Homo sapiens: one gene and its partners. The protein of the gene in region 4 purifies or fractionates together with the protein of the main gene of each other region. This does not show direct contact. Each region holds a gene or a part of one and is shown on either strand. Other genes may lie near its edges.

Region 1 (4,299 bases), on a different chromosome or scaffold from region 4:
TTTTAAGTGACACAGGAAAAAGCTAATTAAATGCAAAAGTTACATTTAATTCTTGTAACTTAACTTTCTATCCTACCATCAGACAACTGAAAAAACTGAGCTTAATATTCAGTACTTTAAATCCCTTTTAAATGAAAAACAATCTTTTTAAAGCCTTAACCCTTAGTCTTATTACACATTGGCAACTATACAATTAGGCATCTGTAGATAAAGGCATCTGTATATAAGACTTAGAGTACATATAGAACATACTATCCCGTACATATAATCTCACTTACAGACATGTATCACATGCATTGTATTCTAAGTGCTTTTGAAGCCTGAATGAGAAAAACAATTTAATCACACTAAATGGAAACAGCAGGCAAAAAAAAAACACCCACACATTAAGATTCTACTGGAATCTGAAGTTAGGAATAAAAAGATAAGCAGCTAATATATGTCAAGCACTGTTCTAAACTCACTCCCAAGATCTACAAATCTGACCTAGATTTTCATGGTAGAAACGGACCTAGTTATATTTTCCTAGACCAATAAAAGAGTAGATATTACTTGCCTCTGCGTAAAAGATAACCCAAGTCTAAACATTTGTATAAAAGATAACTTACATCGAAACACTGAGTATGGTTCAATGAACTGCTCACCTATTTTCCCTGTATCGGGAGCTTGACTGGGGAGGACTGTGATTTAGCCTTCTAGAAAACTTCTTCTCTCGCTCTTCCTCCTTAGTGATCTGATTAAAAAAAAAAAAAAAAGTGTACAAGTTTAGTAATTATTCCACTGTTAAATAGCCTTAGATAGGGCTGGGCACAGTGGTTCATGCCTGTAATGCCAGCACTTTGGGAGGCTGAGGCGGGTGGTTCACGAAGTCGGAAGTTCGACACCAGCCTGGCCAACATGGTGAAACCCTGTCTCTACTAAAAATACAAAGATTAGCTGGGCACAGTGGCAGGGGCCTGTAATCCCAGCTACTCTGGAGGCTGAGGAAAGAGAATCGCTTGAACCTGGCAGGCAGAGGTTGCAGTGAGCTGAGATCGCGCCAGTGCACACTCCAGCCTGGGCGACAGAGTGAGGCTCTGCCTCAAAACAAACAAACAAACAAAAAAAAGCCTTAGACACATTACTGCTTTAATGACTTTATTAACATTAACATTTAATTAACATTAAATAAAATTTAATTAACATTAAAATTAGTTTATATAACGTAGAAGCAAAATTGTCATCTTCTAAAATTATCCAAACAAAGTAAATTTCTCTACTAAGTATAATCATTTAACTATAATGAAATGATTACATTGGTGAGAAAACATTTTAAGCAAGTATGCTCATTTAACATAATTAATGGAAATCCAATTTTATTCCTCTTTCAAAAGTCTAACATATATTCATGTTTTGGTTTCGTGGACTTGGTGTGGTACCAAACACATCAAGGAATATAGGAGAATACATTAGAACTCACCAAGTCATAAATACATACACACACACAAACATATACATGTTTATATATATAAATATATATTTACATATTATATATATTTATGTATCATATTGTAATTTATTATATATTTTATATTATATATAATTATATGATATATATTATAATTATATGATATATATTTATAATAAATATTTTATATAAATATATTATATATTATATAAATATAAATATATTTATAATATTTTATATGCTATATAAAATATATCTTATATATTACATATTTTATATAATATATAAGATATATCTTATATATTACATATTTTATATAATATATAAGATATATCTTATATATTACATATTTTATATAATATATAAGATATATCTTATATATTACATATTTTATATAATATATAAGATATATCTTATATATTACATATTTTATATAATATATAAGATATATCTTATATATTACATATTTTATATAATATATAAGATATATCTTATATATTATATATTTTATGTATTATATATTTATATAAATTTTTATATAAATATATAAAATATATAAAAATATATAAATATATATAAATATGTATATGTTTATGTGTGTATGTATTTATGACTTGGTGAGTTCTAATGTATTTATATATTTATATATAAATATATAAAAATATAAATAAATATATATAAATATAAAATATATATTATATATAAATAAAATATATAAATATATAATATATATTATATATAAATATATATAATATATATTATATACTATATATAAATAAAATATAAATATATATTATATATTATATATAAATATATATAATATGTATAAATATACAAATATATATAATATGTATAAATATACTTATTTATATATATTACTATATATATTTATATAATATATTTATATATTACTATATATATTTATATAATATATTTATATATTACTATATATATTTATATAGTATATTTATATATTATATATTACTATATATATTTATATAGTCTATTTATATATTTATATATTATATATTACTATATATAATAATATATAATATTTTATATATATATATTACTATATATAATAATATATAATATTTTATATATATATATCTGGGAAAACAATATATAAGGTGAAATAGTTCTCCAGTTTCTCACAGCAGCATGACAGCTATATATTTCTGTTTCCTACAAGGTGCCTCCATTCACATTATATAGCTACTAGAAAGCAACCTTGGAAAATATTCTCAGTGCTACTTTCTCCAGACTATATTGTTGAGAATAATGGTCCTCAACAACAGGAACGACAGGAATCACTGTTTTTCTAGGTAATTAGAAAAAGGGACTTAGAGGTTGAACAAATTCAGGAAATATCGTGCAAGTGGCTTCTATAAATAAGATAGGGCTCAAGATTTTGTGTTACTGAGAACCATAAGATATTCTCATGCAGGTAGTCTACGCACAGGGTACACATGTCCCAGTTTATGCCAGCTGTTCCAGCATCCTTTTGATAAGGGCTTCTGACTGTCAGAATGTACCACTTTATGCTGGGCACAGTGGCTCACACCTATAATCCCAGCACTTTTAAAGGCAGAGGTGGGTGGATCACTTGAGGTCAGCAGTTTAAGACCAGCCTGGCCAACACGCTGAAATATCATCTCTACTAAAAATACAAAAATTAGCTGGGCATGGTGGCACGCGCCTGTAATCCCAAAAGGGGATTACAGGAGGGATACTTGGGAGGCTGAGAGAGGAGAATTGCTTGAACCCAGGAGGCAGAGGTTGCAGTGAGCCACTATGGGGCCACGACACTCCAGCCTGGGCAATAGACTAAGACTCCGTCTCAAAAAACAAACAAAAAAAAGTGTGCCACTTTAGATGAGAAATCAAATGGAAATCCTATTAACAGACCAAACTAGGAGAAATAATCTTTAAAGCATTCTTTCAACAGTTTGCCTTTTTAAATTCAAGTACTTTCGTACTCTTTCCACCTATTCCAGCTCTCCTCCCAGACCAGACAAAAAACCGGGTACTAATACGACCCTTCTGATGCACTCTTTCCCTTCTATTTCCTCAATGCACTTTTGCGAGTTATCTAACAGATCACCATATTCCACAGTACATGCCCATCTGCAAACTTTTAGTATAGCCACAGCATTTTAAACGTAGATTGCCATCTGGCATTTCAACAATTCTGAAAGATCAGGGATAAGTATCTCCCACAATTGGTTGAAAAAACAGGAAGTATTATTACATCAATAGATAATAAGACTAAGGCTTTGCTACTAACTCGATTTAGGGGAAGACTACTCAAGCCAAGGGACTGTGATTTACTCAAGATTTTCTGAGAATTAAAGCATACATATAATATATATATTATATATATTTTATACATTTTTTATATACTATATATTTATATTTTTATATATTTATATGATATATATAAATATATATTTATATATATCATATAAATATATATTTATATTTTAAAAATAAATAATATATATTATTCATATTTATATATATTATATATATATATTTTTTTTTTGAGACGGAGTTTAGCTCTTGTCACACAGGCTGGAGTGCAATGGCATGGTCTCAGCTCACTACAACCTCTGCCTCCCAGGTTCAAGCGATTCTCCTGTCTCAGCTTCTCGAGTAACTGGGATTACAGGCACCTGCCACCATGCCTGGCTAATTTTTGTTTTTAGTAGCGACAGGGTTTCACCATATTGGCCAAGCTGGTCTTGAACTCCTGACCTAAGGTGATCCACCCGCCTCAGCCTCCCAAAGTGCTGGAATTACAGGCGAGAGCCACAGTGCCCAGCCAAAGTATAATTTTTCACAGCAAAAAT
Region 2 (3,753 bases), on a different chromosome or scaffold from region 4:
TTCGCTCTTGTTGCCCAGGCTGGAGTGCAATGGCGCAATCTCGGCTCACTGCAACCTCCTCCTCCCAGGTTCAAGTGATTCTCCTCCCTCAGCCTCCCAAGTAGCTGGGATTATAGGTGCCCGTCACCATGCCCGGCTAATTTTTTTGTATTTTTAGTAGAGACGGGGTCTCAATGTTGGTCAGGCTGGTCTCTAACTCCTGACCTCAAGTGATCTGCCTGCCTCAGCCTCCCAAAGTGTTGGAATTACAGGCGTGAGCCAGTGTGCCTGTCCTTAATTTTTACATTTTTAGTAGAGATGAGGTTTCACCATGTTGGCCAGGCTGGTCTCAAACTCCCGATCTCAACTGATCTGCCTGCCTTGGCCTCCCAAAGTGCTGGGATTACAGGCGTGAACCACTGCACCTGGCTGAATCTCTGATTTTTATGTATTTATTATTTATTTATTTATTTATTTTTTGAGATGGAGTCTCGCTCTATTGTCTAGGCTGGAGTGCAGTGGTGTGATCTTGGCTTACAGCAACCGTTGCCTCCCAGGCTCATATCCTCCTACCTCAGCCTCCCAAGTAGCTGGGATTACAGGTGTGTTCGAACATGCCCAGCTAATTTTTGTATTTTTTGTAGAAACAGGGTTTTACCATGTTGCCTAGACTGGTCTCAAACTCCTGGGCTCAAGTGATTCACTCACCTCAGCCTCCGAAAGTGCTCGGATTATAGGCTTGTGCCACCTTGCCTGGCCTCTGGACTTATTTTTATTTTTATTTTTTTTGGAGACAGAGTGTCTCTGTCACCCAGGCTGGAGTGCAGTGGCGTGATCTCAGCTCACTGCAACCTCTGTCTCCTGGGTTCAAGCGATTCTTCTGCCTCAGCCTCCCGAGTAGCTGGTATTACAGGCGCCGGCCACCACGCCTGGCTAATTTTTGTATTTTTATTAGAGGCAGGGTTTCACCATGTTGGCCAGGCTGGTCTCAAACTCCTGACTTCAGGTGATCCGCCTGCCTCAGCCTCCCAAAGTTCTGGGATTACAGACATGAGCCACCATGCCCAGCCCTGGCCTCTGATTTTTAAGTGAGATCATTGCATTCTTTTCTCATCATCCTCCCCATTCCCATTGCTCCCCGTAAGAGTGACTTTGTCTTGCTCTGGCTTGTGGTTGGATAAGAACCAAAGCTCACGAAGCTGTGGGGCACCCTGTTTACCACAGGATCGAAGAGTCAGACCAAGGCCCTTATGCCATCATCCTGGCTCCCACCCGTGAGTTGGCTCAACAGATTGAGGAAGAGACCATCAAGTTTGGGAAACCGCTAGGTATCCGCACTGTGGCTGTCATTGGTGGCATCTCCAGAGAAGACCAGGGCTTCAGGCTGCGCATGGGTTGTGAGGTTTGTTTTTCTATCTAGCAGCCAGCCTGCTGTCTGGGAAGGCTATCTTGGGGCTTTGTTTCTAGTTTCTGGAATATATGTGCAGTAGTATGAAGAAAGGAGCTGGTTTATATATATGTGCTATTTATTGAGAACTTATGCACCAGGGTTTATATCACAAATAGTATATATCATATATATTAGCTCATTAATTCTCACAATAATGTATGAGAGTGGTATTTCCTTGTTATAGATCAAGCTGAGGTTCAGGTTAATAACTGCCTGAAGTCACAAACAGCTGGCAATGGGCAGAGCTGAGACTCATATCCATAGCCTGTGCTTTTAGTTACTCTTTACTCTGCCAGACCAAATCTTTGACTTTGTGCATTGCCTTCATCTCAGGAAAGTGGAGGAGAGCTCTTTATGAGAAGTCTGCTGTAGAAATTTAGTCTTTTTACAATTTTTTAAAAAAATTTAGTCTTTATACAACCCCCTTCATAGTACCCCTTAGTCTCTCCCATCTAAGAAGTTCCTTCTTCAGGATCTGAAATGATTTGCCAAAAAAAAAAAAGTTTCTACTGATTTTGCCTCCTCTGTCTAATCCTTGCACCTTACTCAGAGACCTCATTCATTCCTGAGAAAATCCAGGCAACAAGTGATTTCATGCCAGTTTGCAGGAGCCTTTACTGCTAAACATAACCAGAGGTTGGGGTCCAAGTTCCTCAGCATTGGAGGTCTGTCACCCAAGTGGGTGGATAGTTCACAGGAAAGAAAAGAAGGGGCACCTGCTGGGCTATAAATGATTATACTGTACTCCTCAGATTGTGATTGCTACCCCTGGGCGTTTGATTGATGTGCTGGAGAACCGCTACCTGGTGCTGAGCCGCTGTACCTATGTGGTTCTGGATGAGGCAGATAGGATGATTGACATGGGCTTTGAGCCAGATGTCCAGAAGATCCTGGAGCACATGCCTGTCAGCAACCAGAAGCCAGACACGGATGAGGCTGAGGACCCTGAGAAGATGCTGGCCAACTTTGAGTCGGGAAAACATAAGTACCGCCAAGTAAGGCTGCTTCCCTGGGCTGGGAAAAGTTGGACAGGCCAAGGCGGGTGGATCACTTGAGCTCAGGAGTTTGAGACCAGCCTGGGCAACATGGCGAAACTCCGTCTCTACAAAAATTTAAAAAATTAGCTGGGCATTGGTGGTGCACACCTGTGGTGCCAGCCACTCAGGAGGCTGAGGTGGGAGGACCTCTTAAGCCTGGGAGGCAGTGGTCGCAGTGAGCTGAGGTCGTGCCACTACTCCATTCCATCCTGGGCAACAGAGTGAGGCCCTGTCTCAAAAAAAAAGAAAAGTTGTACAAGGTTGCCAACCTCCTTTTGGGCCTTTCTTGCCTTAGGTGGGCTCAGAGTACATGTTTCTAGAATGAAGTGTGCCTAGGTACAGTCCTCTGACAGTCCTAAGGGTGGAGCCATTTAGCTTAGCCCTGGAAAAACGATTCCAAAGACTCATGCTGCTACCGGGACCACAGGTGCTAGCAAATGCTCTCAATCCTTCCTGTCATCATAAGATGGAAAGTGCCTTGATGAGCAGGTACTCAGGAAGGATGGGAATTCAGAGGACACTATTTTCTAAGGTGGTGGCTATCAAAGCCTATACTGTGGCCCATTTTAGATTCTTTAGTCTGGGCTGACCTGCCTTCGGTGACAGTGGGATATATGATTATTCCTGCCTGGGTGCAGGGCTGAGCCTCCTGTTTTCGTAGACAGTCATGTTCACGGCCACCATGCCCCCAGCGGTGGAGCGTCTGGCCAGGAGCTATCTTCGGCGACCTGCTGTGGTGTACATTGGCTCCGCAGGCAAGCCCCATGAGCGTGTGGAACAGAAGGTCTTCCTCATGTCAGAGTCAGAAAAGAGGTATGAGGGCAGCTGAGCCAGGGGAAACAGGGTGGAGAATAAAATGGCTCTGAGAACTTTTTTAGTGCAGGTGCAGGGCAGGGCAATTGCTCTGCTGTGTTGAAGAGCTGCTGTTTTCTTGGGCAGAATGTCATGGGCATTAAAGACCCTGAAAGTAGTGTTCATAGATGAGGGTTGGGCATTTCACTTGGAGTGGGAGGTATTATGCATCTTGTTTTTCTCCTCTTCCTTCCAGGAAAAAGCTGCTGGCAATCTTGGAGCAAGGCTTTGACCCACCCATCATTATTTTTGTCAACCAGAAGAAGGGCTGCGACGTGTTGGCCAAATCCCTGGAGAAGATGGGGGTGTGTCTGGCAGGGGAGAACAAAGTCTAGCCTCTGTGGCACTGCTTTCTGAATCTAGCAGGGCCCCCTAGGCTCTTCCTTTCAAGTCTCACCCTTTCTTTAGCCTGTCCAGCAATCAACAAGTTAGGAC
Region 3 (4,299 bases), on a different chromosome or scaffold from region 4:
ATGTCAGCGCAAGTCTGAGGATGTTCCTCTGAGCTAATCCATGATGTTACCAACCATTCTTCACTGGGGTCTTGGGGAGGAGGGATCTCTCCCTCAGGAAGGTTTTCCTCATCGTCGTCCCTTTCTCCTGCCTTTTGAGAATCTCTATGGGCACCAGATGCCTCCATTTCTTTGCGCTTGTCTATGATCTTCTGTGTGAAATCCACAAGGTACATATCCTCTACTTCTTCATCTAGGACATAAAAATCAGTTTTCAGACATCAAAAAGGAAAATCACACATGGAATGGACAAGAAGCAGTCACATTCATTGCCTGGTGGCCCCATCACCCCTGACAGCTCATCAGCCAATGCCTCCACTCCCCAAATGTTTACAAAGACACACAGCTACCTTGGGAACTGACATATACTACACAAAAAAATCTTGAAAAAGCCTAAAGTTTTCTATTGCCTCATCAATACACTACCTGAGTGAGCAAAACCATCTTAGAATGTCATTTTAAGATAACACAACAGTCTGATTTTATGCAACTCATCCAACCAATTACATCATACGGAAGCAAAACTGCATTTTCCGTGTCATCAGATCAGGACAGTAGAACTTCTTGCTTTAGGCGTTATATATCTGTCTCACCATGTGGGCTGGATCACTAACCCTGATTATACTGCTGTGGTATGGTAAGTGTTTTAAAGGTCATAATACAGGTAAAAGAAGTCATCTGAGTTCTTGTCAAGCCAATGAACACCAATTCCAGGCAAGGCATAGAGCCCGGCCCTGCAGGGCATATACAGATATGCAAGACACCCTCTGCCTGCAGGGCTTATGGTCCACTCGAGGAGCTAAAACACACACTGAAAGTTAAACAACAATCCATGACTTACCTAATTTAACCCAGGATAGCTCATGTAGCACAAATAATGTATACCTAAAGTTTCACTATGCTGGATTTAGGACACAGTCATTTGAGTCTTTTTCTCTGATGACAGAGATTAAGCTACATTGAACCCACATTAAGCTCCCTATTACCAGGGGTGGTGTTTTCCCCACCTTAGGGTGAAGAAAAACTGAGGCTCCAAAATATAACTTGCCCAAACTTGCAGGTCTGACATATCTATCAGGAGGTAGGCTTGCTGGCTTTGACAAAACCAGGTCTCTACCTTCACACTCCTTTGGACCTGATTTCTATATTAACAACATAAGTAAAGTTTGAATCAAAACAGAAAAGACTTTAATAAAATAAACTTTTTTTTTCTTTTTCTGAATCTGAATCTCACTCCGTCGCCCAGGCTAGAGTGCAGTGGCACTATCTTGGCTCACTGCAACCTCCGCCTCGCGGGTTCAAGTGATTCTCCTGCCTCAGCGTCCTGAGTAGCTGAGACTACAGGTGCCTGCCACCACGCCTGGCAAATTTTTGTATTTTTAGTAGAGATGGAGTTTCGCCATGTTGGCTGGGCTGGTCTCAAACTCCTGACCTTGTGATCCACCCGCCTCGGCCTCCCAAAATGCTGGGATTACAGGCATGAGCCACCACGCCTAGCCTGAAATAAACTTATTTTTTAAAACCATGAAATACCTGAAATGGAGAGGAAATGTCTGAGTTATAAGGCCATAGGCTAGTGAGGCCTCCTGGTAGGCGGCCATCCTGCTGCCCCTTCAGGAAGAAGGCAAAACCTCTCCCACAGTACCTAGCTTTGTTGAGTGTCTGACCTTCCTGTGCCAGGCTCCTGCTATACAGGGAAAGTGCCCCTGCTGTCTGGGAAGAAGCGGTCAGGGACCTAGGACCAGCCTGGCCTCTCTCCTACTGTACCTGGGCCCCAGCCATGCTAGGCTAGGTGACTCTGTTGACCTCTGGCCCTGCCCTCCTCAGCTGGTCTGCTTACCAATCTACCCCTGCAGGATCCCTTTCTCCAGCTTGCCAAAGCTAAGCCCAACTTCTCCCAAAAGACTTCCCTGATTACATATTCACTCTCCCTGCCTCATAAAATCTCTTCTACTGTTGTCTAATTATGGATTGGGTTTTTTCTGGGGGATATGAGAAAAGGGAGTTTTTTGTTTTTTTTTTAGAGATAGGGTCACACTCTGTCACCCAGGCTGGATCATAGCTTACTGCACCGAGGATGCAGTGGCATGATCAACAGCTCACTGTAATCTCAAAGTCCTGAGCTCAAGCCTCAGGCTCCTAAATAATGGGACTATAGGCATGAACCACCATGTCCAGCTAATTTTTAAATTACTTTTTGTAGAGACAGAGTCTCACCATGTTGCCCGGGCTGGTCTCAAACTCCTGCCATCAGGTGATCTGCCTGCCTTGGCCTCCCAAAGTGCTGGAATTACAAGCGTAAGCCACTACACCCAAACAGATTTAAAGCAATTATAAGCACAGCACAGAAAAAAAATTGAAAATAGAGGGAAAATAGGGAAAGAAGAAACATAACTCTAGCACCTAACAGAACCACAATTCCACCCAGCCCAACCCACCCTGTTTTAGCACAGCTGTAATTGTAGGTAATTGCGGCCTACTCAGACATTGTTCCCTAACTTTGCTTTGTTCTGTGTCATTTTCCTCCACCAGATGACCCTGCCTTGAGGGCAGAGACAGAGGATCTGGCTTCCAGTACTTGTTTGTCCCTTCCAGGCACCTAACATGCTGCCAGGCACCCACTAGACAATTGGTAAATTATTGCTGATTTTCTTGTCTCTGTGCAGCCATGGAAAGTAAAATTTTGACGTCTAAATTTTCTCTCTACTCCTACAGTTATTTTAACAAGTAATGTAATATCAAAGGGCTGTATGCATTATAGAAAATGAAGTAGAAATAACAAATTTTATTTACCTATAAAGTCTCCTTTAGTCATTTTTTCATATAATTTGGCTTTTTCTTCCAATTTTTCCCTAGGAGAAAAAAAATACAAGTATTAGAAATGGTCTTATAACTGTTCATCCTGGTTGCCCCCACACTCCCTGCCTGACAGGTACCATCTGCCCATGAGGCCCAGCCTGTCAAGACAACCACAACCAGCACAGACCACACCATCCTGAGGAGACCCTCAGACCACCCTGCCCCATGTCTGCTCTGCCAAGGAAAACAGAAGCTCCGTGAGTGCATGGCCTGTGTCCTCTTATTTATTACTTGGTCCCAGGGCCTAAAATAACACTTGGCACACAGTAGGTTCTCAATCAATATTTGATGAATGAATAAGTGGATCAACTGACTTAAGAATCCAACAACTTAATTTAACTGCCAACTTAAAACAAATGTCAACATTCCAACAAAGCAGCCTCTCTGCTCACAGTAATTCTGATGACATGTATTTTTCAGTGGTACAGACCATGAGAGGGTAAGCAATTCTTTATTCTGGAAATACTTAATGATGGTAAAGAGAAGCCCCAAAGAGTTCTCTTGTGGATGATCTGCGAGTTCTCTTGTGAATGACCACTCTTAATCACAATGTCAGAAACATTCCTCTTTTATTTTACACATCCATTCACCAAGTACTTATTGCACACCTCCTACCTGCCAAGCACTGTTTTAGGCACTGAGGACTCACAGGAACAAGAAAAAGTCCCAGCTTCCTGGGAGTTCCCATTCTAGAGATGGAGAAGGACAATAAAGAAAGGAATGAAAAGGAGGACCTGAGACTGTGAGAAGAGCTGTGAGGGGAAGAAACGCATGCCAGCAGAGAGGCCCCTTGACATGCAGTAATGCAGTGCATGGTGGACCGGCTCACTCATATCAGGCTTCTAAGACCCCTATTTTGGAGGGCTCTTACTGTAACTAGCTGGTCATCAGAGGATCTTACTGTTTTAATGAAAAGAAAACTAGAAAAAATTTAAAAGTCAAACAGAACACAAAGCAACAAGTGTCAGGTTAGAGTGAGTGGGCAGGACACTAACTGAGAGAGGGCAGTCAGGGGAAACCTCTCTGAACATGAAAACGGAGCCATGGCTTGCACAGCAAGAAGCAGCCAACCACAGGAGGATCTGGGGGCAGGGAAGGCAGGTCAGAAAAAGGAAAGATTAAGTGAGGATGAGCTTGACATTTTCAAGAGAGACCAGTAGAGCAGAGGGTGCTGAGCAAAATAGAGAATGGTGCAAAATAGAGACAGAGACAGGCAGGGATGAGAGCACGTGAGAAAGGATATGAAACTTGGTGCAGTGTAGCAACAGTTTTCAGGGGTTAGGAACAGACTACAAATGGATAATTGAGATCAAGGAAGGTGTCAGGGAAACGGCCGCTGGATTTAGTGGATGAGGATGTCACTAGTGACTTTAAAGAACAGTTTCTTCTGTTGAGTTAGAA
Region 4 (4,299 bases):
TGGTGATTGACTGTGGCCCTTGAGGCCAGCGGTTCCCTGGTGGATTCAGTGGACAAAGGACTGCCTGTAAAGGCGGTTTCCTTTGTTTGCCTTTTGAAATTTTTTTGAGATGGAGTCTCGCTCTGTCACCAAGGCTGGAGTGCAGTGGCATGGTCTCGGCTCACTGCAACTTCTGCCTCCTGGGTTCAAGCGACTCTCCTGCCTCAGCCTCCGGGGTAGCTGGGATTACAGGCATGCACCATCACACCCGACTAATTTTTTTTGTATTTTTAGTAGAGACGGGGTTTCACCATGTTGGCGAGGCTGGTCTTGAACTCCTGATCTCAAGTGATCTGCCCGCCTCAGCCTCCCACCTTTTGAATTATTTAGGAGAAGAGAGAGAGAATGCCAGGGCAAAGAGCCCAATGCCAGCCTGGAGCACAGGGTGTGGAAGAGGAAAAGAATGAAATGGAGGAGCTTCAAACACCCATGAAAATTATCTGCAAAACAAAATGCTGAGGACTCGGCACCCTGGCATCTTTCCAGAATGTGGGTAACGGCATCTCATTCGATATTTGACATAGGGAGAGAAAAGTGCATTTATAAAACATTCTTACGTTTTGTGTTTATAAAGCCCCAGGGAACCCCCCACCCTGGGTGGGGCAGCTTGTGACAGACACCTCAGGGCTCAAGGGGATGGCGCTGGTGGCTGGAGGACCCCTGCACGCACCTGACCTCGATGGCAGGGCTGTGCAGGACCTCCCCGTCGCAGTTCCAGGAGCTGTTGGAGACGGTGCAGCAGCAGGAGGGGTGGCTGCTGCAAATGTGCCCAAAGCGCTTCTTCCCCCCCTCCTTGAGGTCGCTGTCCTCATCCTCCATGTGCTTCGACGTAAACTGGAATTTCTTGACGCGATAAACTTCAACAAAAGTGAAGTCAAACTACCAAGAAACAGTGAGAGGGACCATTCAGCTCTAAACGTCATCGTCTGGGTGGGGCAGCAGAACACCCCAGGCCTGACAGCGAGCGCTGTCAGGCCTGGGTGCACACACGGCCCTTCTCGGAGGATGCGACTGCTTGTGCAGGCCCCTGGAGTTCCCTTTCCAGCTGAACTGACAGCTCAGAGATGAAGGGAAACCTGGCACCCACCTTTCCCGGCGCCCACCTTCCCCGGCGCCTACCTTCCCCGGTGCCCACCTTCCGCGGCACTTGTCAAAATGACTTCTAATGCTTTTAGAAACCACAGCTTATCTACAATGACGAACGCTTTTTACAGAATTCTGATAAATAATTAGCAGTGATTATTAGAATTTTGTATTCTCTTTTTAACAAGCACTACTTAAAAAGCCACATAAAAATAGCATTAGACTAGATCTTAAATAGAACTTAAGTAAAAAAAGAAATGTGACTAAATTTGGAGACTGTGACCAAAAGTTCCGCTTCCCCCAACATGACTAGACTCGGGTCTTCCTCTGCATAGGCTACAGAAAGATGTGGTAGAAGGGTCCGAACAGAACCCATTTCTGGGAGCCTAAAGAGTCTATTTTCAGTGGCCTGCAAGGGCCACTTACATCTTTACTGTGTCGCTTTGTTCTGTTTTTAAATAGGAAGAGAAACAACGGGTAAGAAGTTGTATTATAAAGATTCATACCTCTTAGTTTCTGTGCTCAAATACATGTGTGTGTATATGTATGTATGTATGTGTGTGTATATGTATGTATGTGTGTATATGTATGTATGTGTATGTATATACACATATATGTATATATACACATACACACACATGTATACATACATACACACACACACACACACACACACACACATATATTTGAGATGGAGTCTCACTCTGTCACCCAGGCTGGAGTGCAGTTGCGTGATCTCAGCTCACTGTAGCCTCCACCTCCTGGGTTCAAGCGATTCTCATGCTTCAGCCTCCCGAGTAGCTGGGATTACAGGCGCACGCCACCACGCCTGGCTTTTTTGTATTTTTAGTAGAGATGAGGTTTCACCATGTTGCCCAGGCTGGTCTCAAACTCCTGACCTCGGGTGATCCGCCTGCCTCAGCCTCCCAAAGTGCTGGGATTACAGGCATGAGCCACCGCATCTGGCCTCAAAAATTTATCGTTTTAAATGATATTTTACAAGGAGTAGTTGTAACCAGGAGTTTAAAGTTTGTGAAATTAAAAAAAAAAAAGTTTGCCCTTCCTTCCCTTGAATTAAATAATGAATTCCTACAACACATAAACCAGGGACTGCTGGAACATAAATTACTCGCCAGTGGAGGCTCCATGCAAGAGCACCCCACTTACCTGGTCCTGCTGGTTGGTGTGCCTGATGAGAAATCTCAGAAAATTGAACCTGGAGCATTTCCGGATGAGGATGAGGTCAGAAGACCCGTCTCCCAAGTGGGCAGCCGGGGAGAGGCCCCTGGGGCTCCGGCGACAAGCACAGGACATGTTTGTGGCATTGATGGCCAGAAACTTCCCACAGACGACTTGCCACTCCTCCACGTCCTCTGAAGCACAAAGAACCACGGAGATGTCACAGTTACAATGGCGCCGGGCAGCGCCCTGCACCAGGACGGTGGGAGGCCATTCGGGCTCTCACCTGCTCATGCATTTAGCAGACACTTCATGCAATCGACTCTTCAGCTCAACACCAAAAACATCCACCACGGAACTGTCCGCTCCCCGCAGGAAGTGGTACCCAAAGGATCACCTCCCAGAAGGCAGGACTGTTGTCCCTCTCCTCACTTGGTGACTTTTGGACAATTTAGAACAAGGGTCAGCAAACCAAGGCTGTGTGTCAGATCCGGCCCGCCGCCCGTCTGTGTGTGGCCTGAGAGCTAAGAATGCTTTTCACGTTTTTAAATCCTTGAAAAAGGTCTGGCGCGGTGGCTCACGCCTGTAATCCCAGCACTTTGGGAGGCCGAGGCGGGCAGATCACCTGAGGTCAGGAGTTCGAGACCAGCCTGGCCAACATGGTGAAAACCATCTCTACTAAAAATACAAAAATTAGCCAGGCGTGGCGGTGCATGCCTGTAATCCCAGCTGCTGGGGAAGCTGAGGCAGGAGAACTGCTTGAACCCGGAAGGCAGAGGTTGCAGTGAGCTGAGATTGCGCCATTGCACTCCAGACTGGGCAACAAGAGTAAAACTCTGTCTTAAAAAAAAAAAAAAAAAAAAAAAAAATTAGCCAGGTATGGCGGCAGGCGCCTGTAATCCCAGCTACTCAGGAGGCTAAGGAAGGAGAATCGCTTGAACCCAGAAGGTGGAGGTTGCAGTGAGCCGAGATCGCGCCACTGCAATCCAGCCTGGGTGATGGAACAAGACTCTGTCCCAATAAATAAATAAATATTATTGACTGGGCATGGTGGCTCAGACCTGTGGTCCCAGCACTTTAGGAGGCTGAGGCAGTCAGATCACCTGAGGTCAGGAGTTTGAGACCAGCCTGGCCAACATGGTGAAACCCCATCTTTACTAAAAATACAAAGATTAGCTGGGCATGGTGGCACATGCCTGTAGTCCCAGCTACTAGGGAGGCTGAGGGAGGAGAATCGCTTGAACTCGGGAGGCGGAGGTTGCAGTGAGCTGATATTGTGCCCCTGCACTCTAGCCTGGGCGACAAGAGTGAAACTCCATCCAAAAAAAAAAAAAAAAAAAAGAAGAGAAAGAGAAAAAAATCAAAATAATAATATTTTGTGACATGTGGAAATTCTATGAAACTTAAATTTCAGTGTCCATAAATAAAGTTTCATCGGCAGATGGCCATACCCACTCACTGTACACTGCCTAGGCTGCCTCTGCTGGACAGAGACTGTGTGGTTGCCAGGGCCTGAGGTGGTCACCAAGCAAGCCCTCAATGGGACATCTGCTGCCCCCACATTCTAGAGCACCTGGGACAGGAGTCCAGACTCAGCACCACAACAGCGTTTCAGAAAGGGTAACGGGGCCTTTCACAAAACCCACTGCTCCACACAGCCACACACGGCAAGTAACAGTGACCTGACGCTGCCTGGGGCTAAGAAGAAATGGATGCCTGGTGCCAGACAGGAAAAAGGAAAAGCACAGGTGGGCAGGGAGAAGAGGCAGTGCCCTGAGAGAGGACAGAAACCCGCACTCCAGCACACACAGTGACAACACTGAGCCTGTGTTTTAGGAATTACCCGCAGCTTCCAAACCATACAGTGCTTTCTTCTGCTCCTCCTCCAGCTGCTGCTTGCTTTGCCTGCAAACAAAGCATCTGAAAGACAAGAATATCATCACCTTTTAAATATGGAGCTGCAGGTGCAGTGCGTATGCTTGGCACATATAGATGTAT
Region 5 (4,299 bases), on a different chromosome or scaffold from region 4:
CAAGGCAAATCAATTTCATGATGTAACCCAAGTAAGAAACAAAACTACAGCAGAAAACACATTGTAAGTGAAACCTTCACACAACAGAAAAGGATTGCTTAAGACTTGACAGCGAGTCTCCACTCTGAGCTGAGCCCTTTCACACGTGAGACTTGTAGGGGAGCAGCTTCTTCACAAAACCATCTTTGGCCTGGGGAAAGAACTGTGCTCAAGGGCAGTGCTACTGCTGTGCTAACTCACTGGGCAGGGGGAGGAGAGAACAGAGAAGTGCATGGTCTCACCAGCTGGCTGCTCAAGCAGCCCAGGACCCTGCTGGGGCGAGCATTCCTTTTAGAAAAGAAAACCCATCAGCAGGTATGAAGCCCTCAGGGTCTGGTATCAAAGGTGGGTGGATTGCACCTTGGCCTCTTATGTCATTAGGAAAGGGGTTTCATAAGGTCCCAGAGCCCAGGACAAATCCATGGACAAATAATGGTGAGATGGGGGAAGGCGGAGAGAAGAAGGGGATGTGGGAAGGGAGTGGCGTTCTGGCTAAGGAGGAAGACAGAACAGAAGGCTAGGGAGCACAGCACCGGCAGCACCCTATGGAGCACAGCTCTCTCCTCTGCCAATTCACAGCATTAACACCTTCCCCTTGGGCAGGTTAGCTGGGCTGCAAACGGGCCACAGAAAGTCAGTAGTTTCAATCATACACAGCACCCTGTGTGTATAACAATCACATTCTGGATTCTACAAAATCCTGGCCTTTTCCAGAGATATAATTTAGGTAATAAATATTCTCCACCCCGGAGCTGTATAAAACTTCTATAAAAATAGAAACGACATTCTTGGTTCCAGCCGGTTGGGATTCAGAACAGCGCCTCCCCAACCTAGCATTTTTTTCTTTTTTTTTTTTGTTTTCTTTTTTCTTTTTTATTTTTATTTTTTGCATTTATTTAAAAAATCCCATCATGACCCTGGAAGCCTTTAGAACAGTTTTATCCTTTGAAACACAGGACACATTTCTCCCAGTGCGCAGAATTTCAAGTTTACGTGGTTCAGCTTAAGAAGTGTATGTTTCACGTTCCTTAGAGGACAACAGACCCAAGTTATCACTATGAGAAAGGAACAGCTGTCCCAGCTTCAATGGGATAATCCAACACCACCAGCTACCTGTACAACAGTAAGATGGTCAATCCCTGTCTGTTACCCACAGGGACAGCATGACAAGGAGAGAGCCCCCATCTGACTTAATAGCAAACCAACCCCTTTATTCTTATCTCTGCTGCTAGGGGTCAAGACTGGTATTTGTTGAGGTTTCAGATTCCAGAGACCCAGGGATCCCATCCCTGGCTGTGGCTACAGTCACATCTTAACAGGGCCACCTCTGCCCAGGTGTACATTCCCAACAGCATGTCCTTCCTGGTTCTCTACCCCCACAGCACTTCTTAGAGCAGAGGCAGAGCCCAGAAGCTGTGTGGGTCACAGGCAAGAGCTGAAGTAAGACCTGCAAGAGGCGGCAGGGAGCTAACTGTAGCACGAGGACAAAAATGAACACGGTAATACTGAGGTAAATGAACACTCAATTCATGTGGAGGCTGTAAACGTCCTGATGTCACCTCTGCCTCAAGAGCAGAAAATGTGACTGGAGTGGTTACAGGAGGGGCCTGCCAGACCCCTGTGGGAATACTACATCTGGGACACCTCAATCAAGGAGGCAAGGGAGAATTTCTGGCCACTGGCAAATGAAGCATACTGGCTTGCAGGGACCTTCTGATTCAAGTACACCAAGAAATAAGCTCCTCCTCCCCCAACTAGATGGTATTGATCACTCTGCCCACAAATGGTACCCCCTTCAGCAAGAACTGCAAGCCCTTCTTGGATTTGCCTTCATGAGAAAATGGTGGCTTGGGATGGAGGTGACATTCCTTGCTGTGGTGAACTGCAAAGAAGGAAACCAGGCAATGTATTCCATAGAGGCCTTTAAAGAGACCCGTTGGAAATGGGCCATGGTCTAATTTGGTGTTGAAATAAACTAACCTCTTTGGCTGTTTCTCCCAAACTGCCACCAGCCAGGCAAGGCCAATCCAATACTGACTGCTGGCTGGGGGAGCTCGTAATGGGTGATGCCGCCCTGCTTTTTGCATATGTCAGGCTAACAGGTGCTTTATTTCCAGAGAATTGTTAATGCCCTTTTTTGAAAAGAGCAGCAGAAATTCCGGACAAGAATCTGAAAAATAGGTGTCAAAAACTATTTCCCAGAAGGTAGCTGTACAGGAGTTTGAGTCTCCAGCTGCCAGGGCATTAGGTGTCTAGTCACTCCACTCTTCCCCAAAGCCGCTCTGCTCCCCACAGCTCCCAGGTGTCAGTTCTCATTCTACCCACCCTCACACTAAGAGAGGTTCTGGGGGTCACTTTTTTGTTCCACTCAGTCCTCTCTCTTGGGGTGGTTTGGGGCAAATCCTGATCATCGTCTGTGTTAAATGTTTCCCTGTCCCCCTTCCCCAGGGTGGTTTGGTGTTGGTCCTTCTCAACACACACTGGTTACAAACACAGCAAACTTTAAATAAAGGAGAAACAAAAACAAAAACAAAAAAAACCTCAGGATATGGCACCTAAACTCCAAAGTAAAACACTGGAAACCAAAGCACAAACTTGTCCTCTGTACGAAGCGAAACTCCCACAGAAGGCAGTAGCCGAGTCTTCAGGGCAAGCTGTGCCTGCGAGAGTGGCAGGGATCAGGGTCCAGGGCTGTCAACACACAGCCTCAGGGCTTCGAATCATTAAGGGTGCTCCTCCCCCACTTACCAGAAGACCCTCTCACTCCAGTCTCAGAGGGGAGCACGCTCAGTAGGGCTTGCTGTCATTCTTCGAACGTTTGAGCTGCACTTTAAGCCGCTTCATGCCAATCTGAAAGCCGTTCATGGACTGGATGGCAGCTTGGGCCGAAACAGGATTGTCGTAACTTACAAAACCTGTGTGTCCAAGCAGAAACCTAGGTGAGGGACATAATGAGGCAAGGAGATTCTCAGTCCTCCTTATGCAAGATACCTTATGTGCTTCATCTCAAATCCCAATTTTATTCAGCAGGGACAAGAAATCTGGACATTATGTCATACGAAATAAATTAGGTTCTTAATAGTACCACTTAACAGCTACATGGTAATTTAAAGGTTTTTTTCTTTTTCTTGAGACAGGGTCTTGCTCTGTCACCCAGGGTGGAGTACAGTGGTGTGACCATGGTTCACTGCAACCTTGGCCTCCTGGGCTCAGGTGATCCTCTCACCTCAGCCTCAAGTAGCTGGGAACACAGGTACACGCCACCACGTCTGACTAATTTTTTGTAGCCATGAGGTCTCACTCTGTTGCTCAGGCTGGTCTCGAACTCCTAGGCTCAAGCGATCCTCCTGCCTTGGCCTCCCCAAGTACTGGGACTTACAGGCACAAACCTGGACTGTTTAAAGGTTTTTTTGCAAACCATTTTCCATATATTATTTTTCTCTCTGGAGCAACAGTGTGGGTAGAAATCCTTACCTCCACTACAGCAATGAGAAACTGGGGCTCAAAAAGAGGTCATAATGACCTGCCCATGGCCAAGTTAAAACAACACCACAAACTCATATTCAGATCTTTCTGCAGTGAGCTCCTTCTTTCTCAGTGGTAAAATACTAATCCCATCCTGACACCAGAGAGAAGCCAACATACCAAAACACTTGCTCAGGTTTGTCTGCTTGTCTATGAAAACCTTGGCAGACACGACATTCCCAAAGGGCATAAACATCTGCAGCAGGTCCTGATCACCAAACTCCTGGGGCAGGTGGTAGATGAACAGGTTGGCTCCCTCTGGACCTTCAAAATACCCAGGAATTGGAAAAGTATCAGTGTCAAACATGCTCGTCGCCCTGCACCAGTGATCTTTCATTTCCACCTATGTTAAAACTGTCACAATCCCTAAAAACAGAGATTCATCTGGGGAACTAAACAGATTCTCTAAATACAAAGCAAGGAACCAAAGGCAAACATTAAAACAGATTCCTTCCCTCACATTCAGCCAAGCTCCATCTCATTGAGGATGTGAGAAATTCTACCCGCAGGAGGAGGAGTGTTGGGATAATAAAGCAGGCCGACTTGTGTGTGGAGCAGGAAAACAGAGACTGTAGGCTCAGAGAGGAACACAGAAGAGGAGGTGAAAAGGGGTTATAAACAAAACAGGTTTCCAAATAATGCCTAGAAACCACAGGGACAGCAAACAGATTGGTAGTTGCCAGATGCAGGGAATGACTACAAAGGGGCACGAGGGAATTTCTAGGGGTGATGGAA
Region 6 (4,299 bases), on a different chromosome or scaffold from region 4:
AAAGTTTTTACCTTTATAAACGTGCATTAACTTCAATTTGAGTCAACAAATAGCTTTAACTAGTAGAGCAGCTCAGAGCACACAAGAGAGAAGTTGCCCCACTGACTGGTCAAGGGCTGGCTCAGTGATTCAGTGACTTCAGAGACAAAAGTCTCACTCAAGTGGCAAATGCCACAAGACTTCTTTCATTTCAAAAGTGATGTTAACAGCTCATGTCTTCCCAACAAAAAGACAATGACCCTAACTTAAAAGCACTACATCAGTTTATAATGCTGAGTATTTATTATGATTTCAGAACTTCTCTTCCGTGTTTTTTTAAATTACGGCTCACCAGCCTATATGTTTTTAGCATAAAGTTCTGAGAAATCCATTCTTTCACTGTAAAACAAGCCAATACCATAGAAAAGAGAATATCTTCTTAATAGTGCAGGATCTTAGCTCTACAGCACGCATGGGCATGCACACAGCCCAAGACACCTAAAAATCTGTCTTAATTCAAGAAAAACCAATGACAACCACAACGTTACCAGTGCATAAAGAGTGTCAGGGAGTAGACTTAAAAAGCACTTTCCATTTTTTTCTTTTAGTTATCCTAGGGGGATTTTACATTTAAAGAATTTGATTCATTGGACACAGATGAAATGCAGTCTAACAAAAAAAGGTAACCTACTTACAGAAAAAAATAATACACATCTTGCAAGTCCTTAGAAATATATCTTGCAAGTCCTTAGAAATGTACTAATAAACACAAAAGAGAAGTTACAATTAAAAGCCAAAGTACAAAGTCTGATGGTCTCATTTAACTTGTTGAAACATTGAAACCTCAATTTTAGGAGTGTTCTAGGTCCCCGTTTCAGTTACATGAATTTCTAAAGCTACCTTTGAATGATTCCAGGGGCAAAAATAATTTCTGTATAAGGTTATAAATACAAACACCTATTTCAGGCAAGGAGAGTTGGGGGAAGTACATTAACCTAGTACCATCTCAGCAGGAAAAGATTCATCTTTTTAAAAAGATTCCAAGAAGGCTGAGTGTGGTGGCTCACGCCTGTAATCCCAGCACTTTGGGAGGCTGAGGCAGGTGGATCACGAGGTCAGGAGTTCAAGACCAGCCTGGCCAACATGGTGAAACCCCGTCTCTACTAAAAATACAAAAAAAATTAGCCGGGCGTGGTGGTGGGCGCTAGTAATCCCAACTACTCAGGTGGCAGAGAATTGCTTGAACCCGGGAGGCAGAGGTTGCAGTGAGCCGAGATCCTGCCACTACACTCCAGCCTGGGCGACAGAGACTCATCTCAAACAAAACAAAACGAAAAAAAGATTCCATGAAATCTTTCTTCTACTCTTGGTTTTCCCAAATAAAAACTATCTAAATGGAAGTTTCTCGATGTGTGAAACAAAGACAGGTCCAAATATGCGTATGCTTTATTGCCAATTTGAATTTCCATTAAAAAGCACAAAGAAATTTTAGAAATTTACATAGCCTATGTCAAGCATAACATAGTCAAAGCCTTAATTTCTGCATCTGCAAATCTCTGTATTTTTTGGTAGAAGCAAGCAGGGGCAGGCGGAAGGAATATCTACAGCATTTATGACCAACTTTAAGGATAACTGGTCTAAACCTAAATATTACTCCAATTTATTGAACTTAAAGAACTCAGGACTCATTTATTTTTCAGGTTGGATGGTCTTTATTCAGCAGGATAAGCATATTTAAAAAGGTAACACATCAGACCAGAAGTGTATATAACCAATGTACATTTTAATGAAAACTGATACTCCAAGTATTACCCATACTAAATATTTTTCAAACCAAGAGTTTAGTGCTACTGATTATAGATGAGAAACTTCTGTTGGCATTTACTATCTAAACATGTTATTCCTGTGATCAAAAAAACTTCAATGACTCTCCAGAGAATAAATCAATATAAACAGTTCTATGGCATTTAAAAGCATCCACAATTTGCCTTCAACCCACCTTCTCTAGTCTTATCTCCAATTCCATCCTTAGGTTAACACTCCCTATACACCCATTTTCCTATTTTGCTTTTGCTTTTCCTTCACTTGGAAGGGGACCTTTCCTACTCACCTCAATTTTCATTGGTTAAAAATCCTATCCATGCTTTAAGGCCCACCTCAAATACCACCTCCTCCACGGAAACTTCTTTCCCTTAAGACACATGTCATACCCTGCATTAGACACGGCAAATATGAAATGTATTTCTTCTTTTACACTTTAGTCACAGTCAGTTGTGTTTCCTCTTAAGTGCCCAGCACAGATTATACAGATAAATATATTAAGTAATAAAAAGGTAGGCTAAAAAATTTAGTTTATATATTTGTAACTGGAAAATCTCAATTCCTGAAGGCATCAGAAGTGAATACCCCAAGGAGGTGATTTCTCGGACTAAGGAGTCTTTTCCACCATGAAGGGCAAACTGAGTTAAGCAACGAATACTGAAACCTGTCTTATGAGAAAAGCTTATCAGCATTTGATCCATCATCAGCATTTGATCCAGAAACAATCAGAAGGCTGAGGGAGAATCTGAATGGCACATGTGCATAATTTATAAAAGCAAGGAGTTGTACAGATGGGATGAAGACAGAAAAAAGCACATTCAGGTGATGAGAAGTCTGAATTTGTACAGCAATTAAAGTAATGACTTTTTAGACTAAAATCCCAGAAAAAGAGGAGTTTTACATGCAGTCACTACACTCTCATAAAAATACACATATAGAAACAAGCTTCACAGAGAAACTTCCCACGGCTAGTAGTACTCTGATACTTTCCATTCTATTTTGTTTTTTTTTTAATGTTACAATCCACTAAGTTTATTACATAATCCACTAATGGATCAAAATCTGCTCTGAGAAATACTGAACTCTAGACACCAAAAAGTATGCCAAGTTTCAAGTTTCATTCTGCAATTAGTCTCCTAATCCATTTCTTCATCTATCTCACTGCCACTGCATGTGTGTTTCACAGATAACAGTGAACAAAATGTATTCATTTTACAAAAAATCACATACAGTATTTATAACAAATCAATTAAGTCCTAATACACAGAAACTTCTATTTCTGCCAATCAGATCTATCTGCAACCTTTACTTCTTAGGAAGTTTAACTGTTAGCAAGACCTCAAGACAGACCACTGCACAGCACATGTGAACTGCCCTACATCTCTAAGGGATGGTAATGCAGATACCCAACTCAGACACCCTGTCCAATGTCTGAAATGCCATGTGCTTCATTCAACAAGTACTAAGCTGTATAGGGTCATCTTAATTGCAGTGACAGCAAAGCAGTATAAACACATTTACTGTGATAGCCAATAGCAGACAAGGTCTGTTAGAGAAGGAAAAGCAGAAAAGTCGGAAGACTTTCAAAAGTTTGAAGACAATCAAATAGCAGCATCAGTTCCTAGGTGGCTCAGTCACTTTACTATGTGGCTTTGGTAGAGAATATAATTAACATTTCTGCCTCAGTTTACACACATAAACTTGAGGAACTCTTAAAAACAGCATCCATCTAGATAGAGTCCCTCCATTTGTATTTTTGCACTTTCCTATCTTCTTGTCCTCATTAAAGGTCCTCTTCCCCCAGGCTCCAAAGACCAAATGGAATGCTCAGCTACATAACGTACAAAAACCCTCTAAAAACTATTGTGGCACGAATGCAAAGTATTGTAATCATTCTGTGACCAACAAGAGGTGACAATCTAATTTTTCTAAACACCTGTGAACCACAAACTTAACCCGTTACCCAAGAAACCCAGCACTAACTAATCTTTCTCCATTGATGAGTTATCATCACCACACTTTGTCCTTGCGTAGCAAACTGCCAATTACTAAACCAAACATAGAATACTTTTCTTACAAATTGATTTACCATATTAAATGCCAAATTAAATGGTAAAACGAGTCCAGATTCACTCAATAATAACATTTATTAAGCCACTTATTACATACTAGGCCATACTACACCAGTCACATACATTGCCTAATTTGATCCTGAGGATCCTAAAAGGTGGGTGATGATACCTCTATTTCAAATTTGAGAGTACTATATGTCATCATATAGCAGGACCTTAACAAAATGCTGGAAAGTGGGTTCAGAGCAACATCCTTTTCATGCCTCATACACTAAGCCTCAAAGATGTAAAATAAAAGGAAGGGTTTAATAAGATGAGAGCACCTTAACATGTGCCTTTTTTTTCTAAGATATCTTGTTACAGTACATATGACTTTTTAATTTTATACCATAATATATGTGCAAGTTTGTTTTAATACAAGAAAACT
Region 7 (3,736 bases), on a different chromosome or scaffold from region 4:
GGAAGCAGAGCTGGCTGACAAGTGCCTTCTGCAAGATGAGTGATACAGGAAGGGCCCCTCCCACTCTCTTGCCTCTTTGTAATTGAGCCCAGATCATTTTTTCCAAAGCATTGGCTTTAAGTTCATCGCTTCCTTACAGTAGGCATAGCTATTTCCCAGGAAGTCAGAGACAAAATATCATTTCTTTGGCCAGAGGCCACCTCGAGGTGTCAGTGACATCAGCACAGGTGGTTTGTGTTGAGGTTTCGCCTGGGGAGAACTCCAGTCACTTGTCCAGTCTGTGATCTGGTTGGGGGAGAGTCTAGAAAGCACAGACCCTGTGTGGGCTGAGCTCCTGCACTTGCCAGTTTGTTCCATTCTGACAAAGTGATACTGATGAGACAGGCCAGAAGCCGCAGAAGGGCCCTTTGATCTTGCTGCATGGAGTTAACAAGCTCTCTTTGCCTCATACACCCACCCTCTACAGTGTGGCTGCAAGAGTAGCTTCAGCTCTTTCTCCCTCTCTCTCCTTTTCTTCTTTTTTTCCCCCCTAGTTTTTCTGAATAGAGGTATTATGGCTACAGCTGTTTTCCCGAATTAACGAATGTCAGGGAGGTACTGAATATATATGATGGTTAGAAGATGATGTTGGGCTCAAAATGCACTACAGATCTTTGGTCTGCAGAAGCCCAATAAAAGTAACCATTTAAACAATGTGTCTTTGTTTTTTTAGCCCCTTCCAAATGACAAAACCTTACTCTACAATCCATTTCCTCCCACGAATGAATCAGATGTCATCCGGAGGCGCACAGCTCATGCTTTTAAAATTTCTAAGATATATAAGGTAAAACATCTTGTGTTGTTATTCTGGATAGTTGGTTCCTTTGTGATACCAAAATGTAATAAACTCCACAATCGGAAGATAAGAGCACCTTCAGTTTCCATGCAGAGAACCTGGCTTGTGGGAGACAAGTCACCTTTTTGAGGCTGGCTGTCCCTTGTATATGTTTTATTGTTCTTGCCTTAGTAGGTTAGAGGCAGGCACATCATACTTAACCAAAATGAAATGCGTAAGTAGTGAGAAATGTTGGCGCTGAGGGTAGAGTCTTTGTTGTCATGAGAGCTGGCTTTAAATTTTACTTGTTGGAGTGTTCCATAGGATAAATGTCAAGCAGGCTGGGCTTGGTAGCTCATACCTGTAATCCCAGCACTTTGGGAGGCCAAGGCAGGTGGATCTCCTCAGCCCAGGAATTCAAAACCAGCCTGGGCACCATGGTGAAACCCCATCACTATTAACAAAAAAAAAAAAAGGAGAGTTCTGTAAATTACTGATTACTCAAATGACTCAAATGTGATTAGCTTCTTGATGCATTTGTAGCTTGCCAGTTGTCAGTTGCCTTAGGCTGGGTATGGTGATTCACGCCTGTAATCTCAGTACTTTAGGAGGTTGAGGCTGGAGTTCAAGACCAGTCTGGGCAACATAGTGAGACCCTGTCTCTACAAAAAAAAAAAAAATATAAAAATTAGCTAGGTGTGGTGGAGCATGCCTGTAGTCCCAGCTGCTCAAGAGGCTGAGATGGGAGGATAGCTTGTGCTCAGGAGTTCAAGGCTGCGGTGAGTATGATTGCACCACTGCACTCCAGGCTGGGTAACATCGAGATTCTGTCTGAGAAAAAAAAGAACTTAGGCTTTAAAGTCCTTGCTTAACATTGATTCTTGAGATATAAGAAGCATAGATTTTCTATCCAGAGAAATGTAAAAAAATCCTGCTGAGACCTTTTATGAGTGAACTTAGTTAAAAGCTCCCAATCTTGGCCGGGCGCAGTGGCTCACGCCTGTAATCCCAGCACTTTGGGAGGCCAAGGTGGGCGGATCACGAGTTCAGGAGATCGAGACCATCCTGGCTAACACGGTGAAACCCCATCTCTACTAAAAATACAAAAAATTAGCCGGGCGTGGTGGTGGGCACCTGTAGTCCCAGCTACCCGGGAGGCTGAGGCGGGAGAATGGCGTGAACCCGGGAGGCGGAGCTTGCCGTGAGCCGAGATTGCGCCACTGCACTCCAGCCTGGGCGGCAGAGCGAGACTGTCTCAAAAAAAAAAAAAAAAAAAAAAAAGGCTCCCAATCTTGAGCCAGGCGCAGCCGTGCACACCTACCTATTGTCCCAGCTACTCAGGAGACTGAGGCAGGATGATTGCCCAGGAGTTCAGGGCTTCAGTGCACGTTGATCATGTCTATGAATGACCACTGCTCTCCTGCCTAGGCAACATAGCAAGATCTCTAAAAAATAAAAAAAAAAGCTTTTATGCATTCCAACTATTTTGAGTCCCAGGGCAGGAAAGATTGTCAAGAAATTTAAATCATTTGAGCCTTGAACTAGGCTAACCTTTTAGCTTAGATGGTGTCTACCTACAGTCAGTTCTTTCAGGACTAGCCCTGGATCCTAAGTCCTGATAGAATAATTATCATCCCTCTGCAGCCTCTACTCTTCATGGATCTTTTGGATGAAAGAACACTCGTGGCAGTAGAACGGCCTCTGGATGACATCATTGCTCAGCTCCCACCACCCATTAAAAAGAAGAAATTTGGAACCTAAAACAGGGCACTGTCTGTGTCCTTCCTTGAACTGTCTACCCTGTTGCTTTTCACAAATCATGGTAATAAAACAAGTTATTCTTGAGGACTAGTCATTATAAATGTTTTCTTCCAAAATAATGGACAGTCATTTCCCTTCATTGAATGAAAATGAATGGAAATTCCAAATGAGGTATTTGTATTGGGGATAATGTGCTCAGTAGCTACAAACTCATCTAATGTTGATTGAGTCCTGCTTATTCTGTAGGCCGCAATCTCAGAAGAAAAGATATTTGTGTTCTGTTCCCTATTACATGCCTAAGGCTTCAGAGAGCTGATAGCCTTCACTTCCTGCCAGCCCCCAGCCCATGGAACTGCGTAGGAATCTGCCCATCCTCGCCCTGGAGGGCAGAGGACCGTAATTACTTACCCAGGATAGCCTGACCACTAATAACCATAATCAGCCTTAGAGTTCAAGGAAGAATTTCAACTCCAGCATTATAAGGGAGTGCTCCATCTAAAAAATAGATGCCTTTGACCTTTGACAGTCAGCCGTTAATTTTATTTAAAAGTAAAAAAAGCTTGGGTTATCAGTCCCATTAACTGCCTTTTTACCTGTTATGTGCTGGTTTCAAAAGGTATGGAAGGGCCAGGCATGGTGGCTCATGCCTGTAATCCCAGCATTTTAGGAGGCCAAGGTGGGAGCATCCTTGAGTCCAGAGACCAACCCGGGCAACATAGGGAGACCCTATCCCTAAAGAAATACAATATGAAAAAAAAGATACAGGAGCTGGGCACACATCAGTAGTCCCAGCTACTCGAGAGGCTCAGTGGAGCCCAGGAGCTTGAGACCATAGTGTGCTATGATCATACTGGTGAATAGCCACTGCACTCCAGCCTGGGCAACATAGTGTGAGACCCTGTCTCTTTAAAAAAAAAAAAAAAAAAAAGGGTAAGGAAACACTGGGCAGGAATTTTGTTAGGGATTAAGAGTAGAGATGGGGACCCGAGAGCCCACCATGTATTTCACATTTTTCATTCTCTTCTACCTGCTCTGACATTGTTATTCCCACGTGTGTTATCAACTGGCCAGTTTTAATGTGATCTTTAAATTAGAAAGTGAAGAACTCTAGTTAACTAAACTGAGCAGATAGATTTCTTTCCCTTCTCGGGATGTATTCTG

What was found.
Region 1: the proteins of CERK (region 4) and RBM26 purify together in Homo sapiens (affinity purification with mass spectrometry; one large-scale study listed by BioGRID and IntAct). This does not show direct contact.
Region 2: the proteins of CERK (region 4) and DDX23 purify together in Homo sapiens (affinity purification with mass spectrometry; one large-scale study listed by BioGRID and IntAct). This does not show direct contact.
Region 3: the proteins of CERK (region 4) and CCDC174 purify together in Homo sapiens (affinity purification with mass spectrometry; one large-scale study listed by BioGRID and IntAct). This does not show direct contact.
Region 5: the proteins of CERK (region 4) and CELF1 purify together in Homo sapiens (affinity purification with mass spectrometry; one large-scale study listed by BioGRID and IntAct). This does not show direct contact.
Region 6: the proteins of CERK (region 4) and WDR43 purify together in Homo sapiens (affinity purification with mass spectrometry; one large-scale study listed by BioGRID and IntAct). This does not show direct contact.
Region 7: the proteins of CERK (region 4) and UTP4 purify together in Homo sapiens (affinity purification with mass spectrometry; one large-scale study listed by BioGRID and IntAct). This does not show direct contact.

What each region holds. Positions count from the first base shown.
Region 1 is NC_000013.11:79,371,198-79,375,496, forward strand, and holds part of RBM26 (RNA-binding protein 26), read right to left. Parts: intron 734-4,299; coding exon 645-733; intron 1-644. UniProt on the Homo sapiens protein: May be involved in the turnover of nuclear polyadenylated (pA+) RNA.
Region 2 is NC_000012.12:48,831,948-48,835,700, reverse strand, and holds part of DDX23 (probable ATP-dependent RNA helicase DDX23), read left to right. Parts: intron 1-1,203; coding exon 1,204-1,381; intron 1,382-2,181; coding exon 2,182-2,424; intron 2,425-3,127; coding exon 3,128-3,279; intron 3,280-3,514; coding exon 3,515-3,623; intron 3,624-3,753. UniProt on the Homo sapiens protein: Involved in pre-mRNA splicing and its phosphorylated form (by SRPK2) is required for spliceosomal B complex formation.
Region 3 is NC_000003.12:14,657,463-14,661,761, reverse strand, and holds part of CCDC174 (coiled-coil domain-containing protein 174), read right to left. Parts: intron 3,051-4,299; exon of another isoform or gene 2,972-3,050; intron 2,892-2,971; coding exon 2,833-2,891; intron 2,672-2,832; exon of another isoform or gene 2,572-2,671; intron 233-2,571; coding exon 55-232; intron 1-54. UniProt on the Homo sapiens protein: Probably involved in neuronal development.
Region 4 is NC_000022.11:46,689,283-46,693,581, forward strand, and holds part of CERK (ceramide kinase), read right to left. Parts: intron 4,222-4,299; coding exon 4,145-4,221; intron 2,496-4,144; coding exon 2,290-2,495; intron 919-2,289; coding exon 710-918; intron 1-709. UniProt on the Homo sapiens protein: Catalyzes specifically the phosphorylation of ceramide to form ceramide 1-phosphate.
Region 5 is NC_000011.10:47,469,404-47,473,702, forward strand, and holds part of CELF1 (CUGBP Elav-like family member 1), read right to left. Parts: intron 3,829-4,299; coding exon 3,685-3,828; intron 2,975-3,684; coding exon of another isoform or gene 2,955-2,974; coding exon 2,827-2,954; 3' UTR 1-2,826. UniProt on the Homo sapiens protein: RNA-binding protein implicated in the regulation of several post-transcriptional events. Involved in pre-mRNA alternative splicing, mRNA translation and stability.
Region 6 is NC_000002.12:28,897,209-28,901,507, reverse strand, and holds part of WDR43 (WD repeat-containing protein 43), read right to left. Parts: intron 1-4,299. UniProt on the Homo sapiens protein: Ribosome biogenesis factor that coordinates hyperactive transcription and ribogenesis. Part of the small subunit (SSU) processome, first precursor of the small eukaryotic ribosomal subunit.
Region 7 is NC_000016.10:69,166,363-69,170,098, forward strand, and holds the end of UTP4 (U3 small nucleolar RNA-associated protein 4 homolog), read left to right. Parts: intron 1-712; coding exon 713-823; intron 824-2,458; coding exon 2,459-2,575; 3' UTR 2,576-2,659; downstream 2,660-3,736. UniProt on the Homo sapiens protein: Ribosome biogenesis factor. Involved in nucleolar processing of pre-18S ribosomal RNA. Part of the small subunit (SSU) processome, first precursor of the small eukaryotic ribosomal subunit.